Linked DNA regions of Homo sapiens: all the other regions are linked to region 2. The links come from fine-mapping of genetic effects on gene expression. A gene starts in region 2. Each other region holds a variant in brackets. All regions are shown on one strand. Distances are between the middles of the regions.

What was found. PIP is the estimated chance that this variant, and not a neighbour inherited with it, causes the effect.
Region 1: its variant is the best candidate, but not a certain one, in a credible set for the expression of FBRSL1 in whole blood (INTERVAL, PIP 0.58).
Region 3: its variant is the best candidate, but not a certain one, in a credible set for the expression of FBRSL1 in whole blood (TOPMed, PIP 0.76).

What each region holds. Positions count from the first base shown.
Region 1 is chr12:132,580,241-132,582,740 of GRCh38, reverse strand. FBRSL1 (fibrosin like 1) reads right to left here. Exons shown (of 19, transcript NM_001367871.1): 16 at 1,225-1,302; 17 at 917-1,000; 18 at 475-679. It overlaps MIR6763 (microRNA 6763), which reads right to left and starts at 744; the gene lies at 680-744. The variant AGGT/T (reference allele first, on the strand shown) is at 1,489.
Region 2 is chr12:132,488,561-132,491,342 of GRCh38, reverse strand. It overlaps FBRSL1 (fibrosin like 1), which reads right to left and starts at 1,192. Exons shown (of 19, transcript NM_001367871.1): 1 at 482-1,192. The coding sequence starts at 772. RefSeq lists enhancers at 1-104, 2,102-2,231 and silencers at 1,262-1,711, 1,842-1,911.
Region 3 is chr12:132,567,761-132,570,260 of GRCh38, reverse strand. FBRSL1 (fibrosin like 1) reads right to left here. Exons shown (of 19, transcript NM_001367871.1): 7 at 20-335. Among named protein-coding and RNA genes, the nearest start is that of MIR6763, 13 kb to the left of the region's middle. The variant C/G (reference allele first, on the strand shown) is at 1,083.

The DNA of each region.
Region 1 (2,500 bases), 92 kb before region 2:
GCGACTTCGGCTCCCCACGGGCCCCTCCCTGTTAGGACAGGGGGGCCTCCCGGCAGCCGCACCCCCGAACTCCTCCCTCAAACTCCGTGGGTCAGGGCGCGGCCACCTGGAGGTCTCCCGGATGGCAGGTGTGGGTGCCTGTGGTGGGGTCTTCACCCTCCTCATCCTTCCTAGCCCCAGGGCCCAGGCTTCACTCCCCACCGCAGGGAGGAGTCGCCGGGGAGCAGAGCTTTGGCCCCCGTACCCCGGGGCTCAGCAGAGCTGGACAGACTGTGAGTGCGCAGCAGTGGGGCGAGGAGGGTGAGAGGGAATGGGGGAGGGGGAACGGGGAAGGGGAACAGGGGGAGGGGGAACGGTGAGGGAGAGGAAACGGGGAGAAGAGGGAACGGGGGAGGGGGAACCGGGGATGACGGGAGGGGGGAAAGAACGGGGTAGGGGTGTGTGGTGGGGATACGGAACAAGAGGGCCACTCACCGTTCCTGCTCCTCCTTGCCATTGTCCGGCTCTCGGTCATGGTTGGTCAGGGCTGACACCCGCTCCGCGTCCACGGACTTGGGCCACGGGGGCGGAGCCGGGAAGGAGGGCGGTGCCCGGTGCAGTCGGTTCCAGGCCTCATGGGGGCTGGGCAGGCCGTGCACGGAGGAGCCCTCCTTGGGGGCAAAGATGCTGCCACCGGGAGCTGGGGGCAGAGGCCGGGGAGCATGAGGTTGGGTCTGTCTGCTCCCCAGCCACTCCCCAGGAGAACCCGGTAGGGGTTTTAGAAGGGTCCCAGGCTGACACTGAGAAGGGGGTGCCCCAAGGAGGCCCAGCCCAGAGAGGAGGGAGGTCAGCCAGGCATCGGGGTTCCTGCAGAGGACACAGGCATGGGGGAGGGGCGCGGGCATCGGGGGAGGGGGGCACAGGCTGGGTCACTCACCCAGTGCATGGCTGCCCAGGCCCCCAAAGGCGTGGCTGCTCAGGCTGCCCAGGCCCCCAAAGGTGCTCGGTCTGCTGAAAGGGTCTGTGGGGGCAACCGCGGGACCCAGAGGTCTGTGAGGCGTGGGCTGCGGCTCCCACCTGGCCCAGTGGGGGCTGCTGTAGAGGCTTTGGGCCTGGTGGGTACTGCCTGCATGACCCAAGGGGCTCCCTGGGGCTCGGGGCCACCTTCCCGCCCACCTAATTCCCCCGCCACAAGGCTGCTGAGGAACCAGCCAGGCTGCGTGGGCTGAATTCAGAGACACCCACCTGTCAGGGGGCCAGTGGGCAGGAAGCTGCCAGGATGGGCTGAGGGTCCAAATGGGTTGGAGGCAGGATGGGCGGCACCTGGGGGGGGCAGCCAGGTTTGACAGAAGCCAGGAGAGAGCACCAGGGCCTCCCATCTGCAGCTCTGTTCACAGGGAGCACCCCAATTTCCTCTGTGAACCTTCACCTCCCATTCTCTCGCATGCCCTGAGGGGTGAAGCGTGTCCAGTCAGAGTAAGAGGTGGAATCTACCCCACAATTCGGAGG[AGGT/T]TTGACTTGGAGCCGCAGTGGCAGCCATCCTGGGACCCCAAGGGGGGCAGGGAGGGAGGTGCTGAGTGCGATGCAACCCTCGGAGCAAAGGGGCTGCAACTTGGGCAGAGACAAAGTCCAAGTAACATGCACCTTGATCGGACCACTCCTGAAGCCTTTATCTCAGAGCTTTCACCTGGGAGCTGATAGATGGTCCTCACTTCTTAATGTGGTGCTGGGCCTCAGGCCTGGATGGACACGGTTCTGTCTTGGAGGCTGCACATGGCAGCCCCTTGTGGCATTCCTGGGCACAGGCCCAGCCCACAGCACCACGTCAACATCAGCCCTGGCCCCCCAACAACCCTTGGAGAGCAACCGTGTGGGGCCTGGGCCCGGGCCCTGGGAGGGGCTGCTGCAGGGGATTCAGTGCTGTTGGTCAGGGGCCGTCCTCCACATGGGTCCAGAGAGCAGGTTTCTGGTAAAGACCAGCAGGGCGTCATCTTTAGGTTACTCCGACTCCCTCCCAGCCCTAATCTTAGGGACCTCAAAGATGGGGTGCTCATGCCTCCCATGTAGGACGCGGCAAGTTGTATTCAGAGCTTCTGGTCTCCACTGAGCTGTGGCATGAAAGCTGATGCCACTCTTCTAAACTAGAGAGGAAGACAGCCTGCCCCATGCTACGAAAACACAGCTTGTCAAAGCGTGTGCAGGAGGAGATGGAGAGTACACTGCCTCAAATGCCCGCACTGGGAGAGGCTGAGGAATTAATATTCTCAACCACCAGATCAAGCTAGACAGGGCCAGAAAAGTGAGCGACACACAGGGAAACACACAGAGAAGGCAGCGAGGTCAGAGCTGCTCCTTTAAAAATACTGGTGAAATTGGCCGGGCGCAGTGGCTCACGCCTGTAATCCCAGCACTTTGGGAGGCCGAGGCAGGAGGATCATCTGAGGTCAGGAGTTTGAGACCAGCCTGGCCAACATGGTGAAACCATGTCTCTACTAAAAATACAAAAATTAGCCAGGTGTAG
Region 2 (2,782 bases):
GTCACCAAGAGGGGTCTTGAGATTAACCCTCCTTCTCCCCTTCTCAGCAGAGCCCTCGAAGGGAGGAGGGAACGGGATGGCCCGCGGAGTATCCATTTTATCACCACCTCCCTAAGATCCAGCACTGCTCCCTAGCACGTCCTGAACCAGGCAGAGCGATATGCTGGCCACAGAAACACAACTGATAAAAGGCCGACGGTGCTGTCAGACAGCCCCCAATTTCGAAGCGTAGATTTTTTTGCCTCTGCAACTTAAAACGTCCCCAAACCCACCCGACGCTGCTGGGTCTTCCAGATGCGACGGTCTGGGCGAGCGGTGGGCACCCAGGGTCCCTGGAACGGGTACCAAGTGGCCGGGGCTTCCCTCAGGGCTGCCCACGGCGCGGGCGGTCGCAAGCCCAGGGGTCCCGGGATCGCCCGACGCGTCAACTCCGGGCCCCGTTCTCGCCTCAACGCCTGCGAAGCCGCACCCGTCCACCTACCTCCAGGGCCTCCAGGGTGCTGAAGCTGGCGATGGCGAAGCCGTCGATGACCTCCTCCTCCTGCGAGCTGGACTCGCGGCGGCGGCGGCGCGGGGGACGCGCGGTGCGGGGCGCGGGGGCGGCGCCTCGGGGGGGCGCGCCGCGGAGGCCCGCGTTCTCCTTGCCGGGGCTGGGCTCGGGCTCGTCGCCCGACGACGGACTCTGGGCGCGGGCGTCGCGGGCGGCCTCCCGGCGCCGGCCACGGTCCCGCTGCGCGCGCGAGCGCCGGCTCGGGCGGACCTTGGCCTCCATGGCCGCGCGTGCGCCCCGTCGGGCCGGTGACCTTGACGCCCCGCGCCTGGCTCGCAGCAGGCGGGCTCCCTCGGCTACGCGGCGCCGCCGGGCTGAGTGTGCGCCGCGCGGGCTCGGGCCCTGGGCGGCGGCGGGCGGCGGGCCGGGCCGGGCATGCCGGGCGCGGGGGGCGGCTCAGCCCCGGGCCCGGCGCGGCCTGGGACCCCCGGCGCGGGCGGCTGGGCGCATCGGCGGGGGCGGGCCCGGCGCTCAGCGGCCCTCGGCCGCCCCCCCGGGGGCGCGCCCCATGCGCGCGGCGCGGCGATCGGGCCGAGCGGGCGGGGCCGGGCGGGCGCGGCAGGCGGCAGGCGGGAGGCGGCCGGGCTCCTGGGCACCGGGCTCGTGAGGCGGCGGCGGCGCCCCGAACAGATAACAACTGACGCACTTCCGCCCGGCTGCGCTCGCCAGAGGAAGTGAGGGCCGCCGCGGGCGCCCGCGCGCCCCGCCCCGACCACGCCCCTGCCCCGCCCCGCTCATAAGGCTCCGCCCCCACCCCGCACACGCGGCCCGCCCCGCTCACAAGGCTCCGGCCCCTCCCCGCCCCATTCACGCAGGCCCCGCCCCCCGCAGGCTCCGCCCCCTCCCCGACCCGCTCACGCAGGCCCCGGCCCCGCCCCTCCCGGGCGCTCCCGCTAATTCAGGCCCCGCCCCACCCGCAGGTGCCCGCCCTTCGACCTCGCCCCCTAGCCGCGCCCCTCCCCGGCGCCCCGACCTCCGCTGCAGCCGGCGGTGATCCGCTCGGCTCCTTCCTGGGAGGGCGCTGGGATGCCGCGGCCCCTCCGTGGGCACCTGCGGGCGGCGCTCTCCAAGCGGGAGGCGGGGGCAGCGCCGCCCTCCTCTGCGGGACTGGGGTCCCCGGCCGCGGGCGGCTTCCGAGGAGGACGAGGGGCCTCCGGTCTCGCGGAACCGAAGTCCTGCCCTCGGCGAGCGTGGAAGGGACGGGGAAGGGGCGGGGAGGACCGGGGGAGGGTCCTCGGCCAGGCGGTGCCCCCTCCCCGCGTCCCCGCGGACCCTCCCAGGCCTCCTAGGATGCGGGAGGGGTCTGTCCGCGTCCCCGCCCCGCGCCACGTGCCCCCAAGTCCCACAAGAAGGCGGCTCCCGCCACCGAGACCCCCGGGAACGCGCCCAGCGAGGCGGGGGCTGCTGCCAGACACGGAGCGCAGTGTGGAGGGCGGCGCGGGCAGGAAGCGCACGGAGGCGGCTGCGGTTGCGAGGCAGGCGCGGGGCGAACTTCCTCCTCCACCCCCAGGACAGGCCGAGCTCGGAGGGGCCCGCCTGGTGGGGTTTTCTGAGCCCAGGGGCCCCTTGCGCGTGGGCACTGGAGTCATTGATTCATGCAGCGCGTATTTGCCAGATGCCTCCTGTGTCCAGGCTCTGTTGGTGACCCCGCAGCGGCTGAGATAGACTACCCTCTTAGAAGTGGGAGAGAGACCCTGAACACAGGGCCAAATAGAATATCAGCCAAGGATAATCTGAAGAAAATCGAACGGGGAGGTGTCACAGAGAGTGGGCATTGGGTGGTCCAGAGGGCCTCCCCGAGGAGTGACGACTCCGAGCCCCAGCAGTCATGGGCACCCTGTTTCAGGTCGGGGCTACACCCCTGCACAGGCCCTCGGAGAAGAATGGTGGTTTGCTGGAGGGCGGAGGGGAGGGTGCCCAAGACAGTGGTGGGACCCTGCCCTCGGTTGCCCTTAGTGGGAACGGGTCCTCGCCCACTCTGCGGGGTCCACTTTACCCTGCCTCTGGGAGAGCCTACTGGCGGCCTCTTGTGCAGGGCAGGAAGGGTGTGGTCCAGGCACCACTGGCTGTTTGCTGGGCTGAGGCAGTTGGGAAAGTAGCTCACTGGGGTGGGGGGACTTCCTGTTCACCCAGCCTCCTCCAGTCCACCCAGCCCGCTCTCTGGTTCCCTGTCAAAGCCTCCCCAGGGTGGGGGCAGGGTCCCCCTCCCCCTCTTCCCATTCCGGGTTTTGT
Region 3 (2,500 bases), 79 kb before region 2:
TCCCCCGCGGGGACCCCACCTGAGGCCGTGCAGGCCGTTGGCTGCCGCCTGGCTGTGGCCCGCGAAGGCGCCCAGGGATGCAGGCACGTGTGTCGGGAGCAGGCCGCGGGGCTGCGGGGGTGGCGGCTGCGGGGTGTGGCGGTGCGGGGCGGGGGGTTCCTTCTTCACCAAGGGATTGGCGCGGGAGCCGGGCGGGGGCCCCGGGCAGGGCGCGGCATGGGGCGCGGGGCTGGCAGTGGGCAGGAAGCTCTCGGCGCTGAGCTCGCGGCTGCGCTCCAGGCCTGACACCTTGGGCACCGGCCCGGCCTTGGCCTCCGACTTCTCAAGCGCTGGGCCTGCAGAGAGAGGGTGGCTGCGTTCAGACCAGCAGGGCCTCGTCCCTGCCCCTCCTGTGGCCCAGGGAGCCCTGGTACGTGCCCGGTGCCCAGGCTATGTCTGGGCTCCGGCTATGCCCCCATTTCAGATGAGGAGGCAGGCACGGAGGCCACACAGCTAGCTGGATCTCACCCGAGGCTCCAGGCCCCGCCCGGCGGAGGGAGCTGGCTTGGGAGCCTGGGCCGTGGCCAGGGGTGGGGGTGGGTAGCCCACCTGCCCGAAGACGCATCACTGGCAGGGACAGGACAGGCCCTGCAAGAGTCAGTCCCTGGACAGGGGCTGCTATGACCTCATTTAACAGACAAAACCAAGATACATCAAGGACTTGGCCCAAGAGGGGAGCTGGATTTGAACACGGGAGCTAGGGCCTGTGTACCTAGGCCTCATGTTCACGGCCCCTGGATGTGCCCTCAGCCCAGGGCATGGGTCTGCCCCACCCCAACAGCAGCGCCCACAGCTGTAACCACCTTTTCTTTCTGGAACCCCCTGGTGGAAGGCTTGACCACTTCCTGGAAACTTGGGCAGGGACTGGGTGGGAGGCTTCCCCCTACTGTGACTGCCCGTCACCCGCCACCCTCAGCCCTGCTCCCTGGCCACCCTTCTGCCCACCTAGGCACGTCCCCCGCAGGTCCTGTGGGCCCCTCTGAGCCCCTGGGGCCTGCCCCCCCCACCCCCGCACACCCCAAACCCTCCTTTTCAGGCCCCTT[C/G]GGGCAGGTCTCAGATCAAGTCCCCAGGAGTCAGGAGAGGGCAGCGTCCATGTGGTGGAGCTCCTGTTGCCTGGGGTCAGGAGCTGCCACGGTCAGGGGGCCAGTTTCGCAGGAGAAACAAAACAACGTTCCACGTGCCGCATGCCTCCTGTTCACGTCCCCGGCAGACCCTGCTTCCTTCCTGAGGCCTTGGGACAGTGAGCCATGGCCCATGGGGACAGCTGCGGCCGTCCCTGCCCCATGTGACCATGGGGCCTGGTCTTCTGGGGCCTCAAGGAGTTCCTCCCAGGTGAAAACAGGCAGCAGGAAGCAGCCCCATCTTCACTCTTCACCTGGGGCCAGGCCTTCCACAGCAGCCACCACCCAGCGACCACAGAGAGGCTGCGCGGAGGACACAGGAGAGAGGGAGCCCACGGGCACTATCTCCACCGGCTTTCCCAGCTCCCTGGGTCAGCCCCACGGGACCTCTCCTCCTCTCTCCCACATCTCCAAGCCAGCCTTGCATATAGTAAGAGCTGTGATCAGGATGGAAAGAGGCTTGGGCCGCACAGACCTGGACTAGACCCCACGTGCGGGGCCTCCTGTGCCCTTCTAGCACCTCCAGCCCTCACTGGGACATTGTCCGTCCAGATGCGGCAGCAGCCGCGGCAGTGAGCTGAGTATTCAGCAGCCCCGCGTGACACCGTCTGCGAAGCCAGCTGCCTCTCCTACCGGGGCCCGTCCCATGCACGCCCCTTCTGACACCACCCCATCTGCGCCTGCTTTGCTGTGATGCTCTGATGTGAACAGGCTTCCAACTTGAAGGCAGGTGAAGGCCATGCCTGCTGAAGGGCAGTAGGGCCCATCCTTGCCGGCATTGGCAGGGCCTGTCCTGTCCAATCACATCCGGATGAAGCCGTCCCAGCAAAAGGGTGGTTCCAGCTGGAAACCCAGGGAGGCAGGAGCCGAGACCCCGTGGCCCTGCCGGAGATGCTGCCCGCCTAGGCCTTGGTGTGGGAATCCCAGGATCCCAGCGCCAGGGAGGCCCTAAGAAGACGCTGGGGCTATCCCCTCTGGAGAGGGTTGCTGGCCCGTGGACACCCCGCCCCACAGCTCACAGCCACAGGTTACGAAGGCCCCTAAGACGCCGGGGCTACCCCCTCTGGAGAGGGTTGCTGGCCTGTAGACACCCTGTCCCATAGCTCACAGCCACAGGTTTCGAAGGCCTGGCCTGGAACAGCAATCCAGGCCCCTCCACTGCACCACAGAGGCGCGCAGGCAGCAGAGCCAGGGAAGTGAGTCTCAGTCCCGTTTCTCTTTAACTCAGCAGCCACAGGTGATTGTGGTGCTCGTGGCAGGTGGCCCTTCAGTACCGAGCATCTGACCCCACGAACCTGGGGAGGGCCTGAGAGCACACATTCCTAACGGTTCCACTCTGG